Homo sapiens: one gene and its partner. The protein of the gene in region 1 purifies or fractionates together with the protein of each later gene. This does not show direct contact. Each region holds a gene or a part of one and is shown on either strand. Other genes may lie near its edges. The genes, in order: SPRR2A and WRAP73.

Evidence for each region.
Region 2: the proteins of SPRR2A (region 1) and WRAP73 purify together in Homo sapiens (co-immunoprecipitation; one large-scale study listed by IntAct). This does not show direct contact.

Annotation. Positions count from the first base shown.
Region 1 is NC_000001.11:153,055,513-153,059,075, forward strand, and holds SPRR2A (small proline-rich protein 2A), read right to left. Parts: upstream 2,001-3,563; 5' UTR 1,959-2,000; intron 1,243-1,958; 5' UTR 1,224-1,242; coding exon 1,005-1,223; 3' UTR 608-1,004; downstream 1-607. UniProt on the Homo sapiens protein: Gut bactericidal protein that selectively kills Gram-positive bacteria by binding to negatively charged lipids on bacterial membranes, leading to bacterial membrane permeabilization and disruption.
Region 2 is NC_000001.11:3,640,052-3,643,868, forward strand, and holds part of WRAP73 (WD repeat-containing protein WRAP73), read right to left. Parts: intron 1-3,817.

The DNA of each region.
Region 1 (3,563 bases):
TTCCTGATATCCTGACTTGATCATTACACATTCTATTCATGTAAAAAATCACATGTATGCAGTAAATGTGTACAAGTATTATGAATCAATACAAATAACATTAGAGAGTCTTCTTATTTCCTATGTTAGTTACACCCAAGCCACTCTCTTGCTGGAACAAATATGGTAGTGGTTGTAGTGGGGAGTGATGATGATGAGGAGGAGGAGGAGGAGGATGGTGATGGTGAAAACAATGATAATATGTTGCTGCGAATACAACTCTATCAAATGACAGCTAATTACGTGTCAGGCATTGTGCCAACCAAATATCAGATAGTAATCAAATTTTATGCCTTAGACTAGTTTGTAATGTAAATGTTATTTTGCTCACTTTGCAGTAAAGAGAAGTTGTCAATTCAGAGAAGTTGAATAATATCCTCCTCAAATCAATCAAATGCTAATTAGGGAAAATAAAAGGGGTTTAAAATGATACAGAAATAATCTTTGGTATGACTCCAATTGTGAGATCCTGCTGTGAATCAAAGAAAGATTGAAATAAATCCAAAAGATTACATACTATTGCTAATAAAGCAGATTTGAAAATAAACAAAAGATCCATTCACAAATATATATGCATAGATACTTTATTCAGGGAGTGAAAGATAAGTGACAATTGCAAAGGTGGTAGAAGCTCGTGACCAGGTGACAGACAGACACAGAACACATCAACAGAATTCTCTGATGGTTCCCAGGGAGAGAGCTGCTGCTCTTTCTTCCGAAGCTCTGGGAGCTGGCACAGCCCAGGACTTCCTTTGCTCAGTCTCCACCTGGACAGTGGCAGTATGGCAGCCTCAGAAAAGAAACTTTTTGCTGTCAGGGATCATCATGGGCAGATTACTGGCTAAGGAGAAAGAAGCTCCCTGTGTATCCATGGTAGGCTTTGATGAGAAGATGAAGGTGGAGCTGTGGAACGAGGTGAGCCAAATATCCTTATCCTTTCTTGGTCCTGATGAATTCTGAAGCTGTTACTTGCTCTTCGGTGGATACTTTGACTGGCAGGGTGGGGAAGGTGTCACAGGAGGATATTTCTGCTGGCACTGCTGAGGTGGGCAGGGCTGTGGACACTTTGGTGGTGGGCAGGGCTCAGGGCACTTCGGGGGTGGACATGGCTCTGGGCACTTTGGCGTGGGGCACACAGGAGGTGGCTGGCAGGGCTGCTTGCACTGCTGCTGTTGATAAGACATCCTGCTGGAGTCTCAGGATCTGAAAGAAATGATACAACAGTGTTCGTGGGAAGGGAATCCTCCAGAGAGAGAAGCCAAAGCTTGTGTAATACCATGGCATATTATTTCTCCAATCTCCAAGAAATTATTTAAATTCTTAATTACCTTTTCAAGACTTTCTGGTTTCTCCCTTCCACTTTAACAAATTGCTTCATTGTCCCTAGGAAATCCTGTGTTTTCTCATACAATTTTTCCAAATAAATTATCTCTGTTATAAAGAATCAAGCATCTTATTTCCCTGAAAATAACCAATTCAAGAAAGGCAGTCACAAGTTCAGACACCCTGGGCAATCTAATATGCTATTCCTATCATCATTATCTGTTATAAAGTCCAAGTGGGCTGACTTGGGCATAGAGCAAAGGGCTGCTCAGGGAGAATTGTAGTCTTTCACACCTGCTAAGACACAAACCTTTGTAAAGGACACTAGAAAGACAGAGAATAAAGAAAAATACTTTGTTCTTTTTTCTTCTTCATATCAAAGGTTACCCCTTAACTTCTCTGTCCATATGGATACCTACCTGTATAACAAAAGAAAGCTAAAATAGCATATAATTGTGCTCTAATCTTAAATTTTCATCCACTAAGTAGCATCAAGTCAATTTTCATAGGATTGGATCCACCAAACTTGCCATATTCAGATTAAACTCAACATTTCAGGGCACAAAGAACAGAGGAACTCAAGGAAGCCGACTCACCAGGTTCTCCAAGGCAGATCAGTGCTCAGGTACCAGGGGTTTAAGAGTCGTGCAGCAGAGGATCTCTTTATAGAGCCTGCTACCCCACCCAGCAGGAAGTGAAACTACCCAAAACAATGCTGATCCAGTAATTTCTTAAGCCAGATGCAAATTTATCCATGACTGGCATGAGCAGGATACTCAAAATAGGAAATATCCTGTTCTGAAATCTCTCCTCTGGGTTAAGCTCTCCTGACTCACAGAAGCCATGCCTTGGATCTCAGTTTCAGTGACTTATGGCAAAGAGGGACTTGGGGGAATCTCTAACTGATGGTCAAGGGATCTCTTTCTTAATTGGGAACAAAGATATTTTCCTGTCTTACACCTTCCCTAAATCATAAAACTTCTGCCCTCATTCACTTTACCTGAATGCCTTATTGTTGTACATGAACTCAACTGTACCTCTACTTTCCTCATGCAATTTGCCAATGTGCTAGGAGGAAGGGGAGACCTAACAAAGGCCTGAGTTCTAGCTCAAGCCTTTTCTTTGCTCTGTTGTATGACCACAGGCAAGTCACTTCTCCTCCACGGAACTGTAAACAGGGAGAATAATACTTACCCCTGAGTTTGCAGGCATTGACCGCATTGTGCCACCTGATGACCCTGTTCGAGCTTGAAATTTTTTCTTCTACCTCTTTCTTTCTCTCATAAAACCCCAGATTTTACCTGTATTATCTTCCTCTTTAAAACTGTCTTCTCTAATCCATTTGTAGAGGCATTTGTCTCCCAGGATAGATTCCAAAGTGAGATCGAGTCTCCCTAGCACGTTTTCTACTTGCTGCCCTTAGGGATGTGTACTATAACTTTTTATTTATAAAAATGTACTCTTGGACACCACCTTAAGGAAGTAGAGAGAATGGAACCAAAGTTGCAAGCATTCACTCAAAATCTATGTATTGAAACTTGCCTATGTTCAATACATTTTACATACATTTTTAGTATAATTTGAATATTTTAAATATTACATAATCTCCCAAAACATTCTGTAGTGTCCTGTGAATATCCTATAGAGAACAAGCTGCATAGACTCATGTTATCATATGTAAATAATTAGAAGTAGGTTTGCAGAGTGCAGAAGTTCAGAGCACTTAAAGTCTGAAATCTAGAGGAAAATAAAAGCTAAGTGTAATCCAATATGTATTCTTGCTCTCTATTTCCAAACAGGTTTTAGGTGTTTGAAAGACAGTGTTTTAAAATTTGTTTGTATGTTCTTCCTTTGTTTTTTCCGTAGACCCTCTAGTCCCACAGTCTGCTGGATTATCAACTCACACCCCAATGTACACCTCTCATCTGTCCATTTTGGTACATATTGTTCACTTAACACATATGTTGTCAATGCATTTAGTGATTGTTCTTTCACATCTTTTTTAAGCTCTTTTACAATCATAAGGTTTTCTAAATATTGTATATTAAGCATTTAAAGTGATATTGCTAGAGCTTCCTTATCTGGACCATTAATCAGGAAGCTTTCCAAGAATGTGGTTTTGTAAGTAGATAAGAAGAAAGGGGAATGAGGAAGAGGAAAGACAAAATCATCAGAGCAGTCACCAGCTATGCTCCAGGAAG
Region 2 (3,817 bases), about 150 Mb from region 1:
TCTGTAATTGTTTCTCCAAACAACATATACAGCGTTCAGGAGAGAAGTCCTGAACACACAGGTAGTGGATCAACGAGCTCCAGGGGTCACGTGGCAGCACGGAAGGGCTCCTGTGCTGATGCTGAACCCGAAACACACTGGCCGTTCTGGGGACCATGCCTCGGAACTCCAGCTGCACAGAGCACTTGCTCCTCTAACAGCTCCACAAGCTGAGGCCAAGGAGGGCGCTGGGGCCTGAGCGAGGAAGCGTGCTACTTCCCACCAGCGTGTCTGAGGCTGAAACCTTGCCCAAGCCTCTCAGACTCAGCAGGGTGGGTGCAGCGCCTGAGGCTCTGAGCATCAGCAGGGCGGGGTGGAGCGCCCGAGCATCTCAGCATCAGCAGGGCGGGGTGGAGCGCCCGAGGCTCTGAGCATCAGCAGGGCAGGGTGGAACACCCGAGGCTCTGAGCATCAGCAGGGCGGGGTGCAGCGCCCGAGGCTCTGAGCATCAGCAGGGCGGGGTGCAGCGCCCGAGGCTCTGAGCATCAGCAGGGCAGGGTGGAACGCCCCAGGCTCTGAGCGTCAGCAGGGCGGGGTGGAGCGCCCGAGGCTCTGAGCATCAGCAGGGCAGGGTGGAGCGCCCGAGCATCTCAGCATCAGCAGGGCAGGGTGCAGCAACGGAGCATCTCAGCATCAGCAGGGCGGGGTGGAGCACCCAAGCATCTCAGCATCAGCAGGGCGGGGTGCAGCGCCCGAGCCTCTCAGCATCAGGAGAGTCCATGTGCCACCCAGGGCAGAGACCTGCCCTCCAGAGCCTACTGCAGAGTCACAGGAGAAAAGCACATCTCCCACCTGTGGCCCTGCATCCCTGTGGGGTGCGCCTGGCCGAGGCTCCCCACTCAGGCACATCTTAGGAAACACAGGGAGCACTTTAAGCCTGATTTTTACCTTCATCTCACAAAAACAAAGAAACAAAAACCTTTAAAAGATAACTTTGCAACTTTTAAAAACCCAATAAGAAAAAAAGGTAGTTAAATATACACCTTCATCAGCGCTGTTACCTTCCACTGACCACTGGAGAAGCCAGCGGAGGAGACCCGTGGGATGGGCTCCACAGCACTCAGCAGCAGGAAGAAAGGACCAGAGGGATCCACATGACCCAGAGCACTCAGGAGGGAAGGAAGGGGCCGCTGATCCACGCTACGACCCAGTGTGCTGAAGACGGAAGGAACGGGCCACCGATCCACACCACAACTCAGCATGCTCAGGGTGAGAGGAATGGGCCACGGATCCAAGCCATGACCCAGTACACTCAAGACGGGAGGAACAGGCCACTGATCCATGCCACGACCCAGCACTCTCTCCACACCATGACCCAGCACTCTCAAGATGGAGGAACGGGCCACTGATCCACCCCACAACCCAGCACACTCAAAACCAGCAAGATGCCAGGGAAAAGGAAGCAGACGCACAGCTCCACGCACCATGGCTCTGTGCAGATGGGATTCCGAGTAGGCAGTGCTGCTCGCCCCGCAGCAGGCACCGGCTGCCGGACACAGGTGGGAGACGGACTGAGCACAAGGGGCACGAGGAGCCCCATGCCACGGGCGAACAGTCTTGGTCCTGATTGTGGCGGCAATGACGTGCAAAGTGACTCACTCAACTGTGCTCTTAAAGTGGGTGAATTCTCTTGCTTATAAATTGTTTTAATTGCCTTTATTCAGATATAAGAAAAAGTCTGCAGTCTGGATATATTTTTAAAGCTAACTATAGACTATTTACAACATACACACTCAAGTTTAAGGATGCAGAAATGTAGAAGGTAAAAGGATAGAAAAAGACATATCAAGAAAATCCTAACCAAGAGAAAGGTGGCACTGCCGCATTCGTACGGGATAAATCAGACTCTGAAACAAAAAGAACCGTGAGACATAAAGAGGAATACTTTACAACAAAAGGCCTGTGCCACCGCGGAATCATGGGAACCGCTTCACTAGGAAATCTGTTTACAAACAGTTAAAAGTTTGTATGCAGCTAACAACAAAGTCTCAAAAATACATTTAAAAATCTGGCAGAGCCGGGCGCACTGTTGTGCACCTGTAATGCCAGCTATACAGGAGGCTGGGAAGGAAGGATTGCGTGAGTTTAGGAGCTCGAGACCAGCCTGGGAAACAAAGGGAGACCCCAACTCTACAAAAAAATTGTTTTTAAAAAATCTGACAGACTACAAGAGCAATGAAGAGGAATCAGTCCCATCAGATATTCAAACACACCATAGAACCTCAATAATGTAGACAGTGTGGTGCTGGCACATAGGTGGACCAACAGTGGACTGGAATGGAAACCAGAAGTGATCCTGCAGGTATAATGGAACTGAGCTCCTGCTATAGCTGGTGAAGATAGCCTTCTAAATAAATGCTGCTGGGAGCTGGGCACGGTGGCTCACACCTGTAATCCCAGCACTTTGGGAGGCCGAGGCAGGCAGATCAACTGAGGTCGAGAGTTTGAGACCAGCCTGACCAACATGAGAAACCCCATCTCTACTAAAAATACAAAATTAGCCAGGCGTGGTGGCGCATGCCTGTAATCCCAGCTACTCGGGAGGCTGAGGCAGGAAAATCGCTTGAACCTGGGAGGCGTAGGTTGCGGTGAGCTTGGATCACACCATTGCACTACAGCCTGGGGGACAAGAGCGAAACTCCATCTCAAAAAAAAAAAAAAAAAAATGCTGCTGGGAAAAGGTAGAAATGGATTCAGACCCCACAGTGTGCCCCACTACGTGAACCTGCTTCATTTAAATGGAGCATGTGTGAGCGTCTGTGTGTAATGAAACAAGATAGGAAAGCACTCAACCTCACCGAGAATTAGGGAAACGCAAACTAAATCCAAACTGCAGTATCATTTAGTCGCCTGGATGGAATCATTGTAATCCTGCCACAAAAGCCTTGGCAAATGAAACCCCTCCGTCTGCTACGGCCAAGCAAGGCTCTCCTAGAGAGGCTCTCCGGGTATGTGCCCAGGAGACGGGGACAACACGTTCACAGCCACACCGTCCGTGGTGACGCACACGTCCAGCAGGCGAGGACTGAATGGCGTTCCTCACGAGGAAGGGAAGGCCCAGCGATGCCTGTCAACACGGAGGAGTCTAAAAGCAGTGACGGGGAACAGCAACAGCAGAGACTGCAAAGTACAAGCCCCTATAAATCAACTTTACACTGCACAGCAAGCAATGTGGTGTTTAGACACATCTGTACAGTGAGACTCAAGAACAGTGAGGATGTGATTCACGCAAGACGTGGGGCAAAGGTGCCCTCAGGTGGGGAGGGCATTGCTACGAGGAAGAGAAGGGCTCTGAAAGCGCGGCAGTGTTCCGCTGCAGGCCTAGGGGTGAGCCGCTTTTGATGACTCACTGAACCTCGTCTAATGGGCGCAAGCTTGCCTTTTCACGTTAAAATGCAAGAGGCAGGGACGTCTCCCATGCTCCACAGCACCCTCACGTGGGGTGGCGCCTTCGCAAGTGGACTCAGCGGCCCCACTAACCCCCGAAATGGGGTCGCGCCTTCGGAAGGGGACCCAGCGGCCCCGCTGAGCCCCGGACATGGGGTCGCGCCTTCGGAAGGGGACCCAGCGGCCCCGCTGAGCCCCGGACATGGGGTCGCGCCTTCGGAAGGGGACCCAGCGGCCCCGCTGAGCCCCGGACATGGGGTCGCGCCTTCGGAAGGGGACCCAGCGGCCCCGCTGAGCCCCGGACATGGGGTCGCGCCTTCGGAAGGGGACCCAGCGGCCCCGCTGAGCCCCGGACATGGGGTCGCGCCTTCGGAAGGGGACCCAGCGGCCC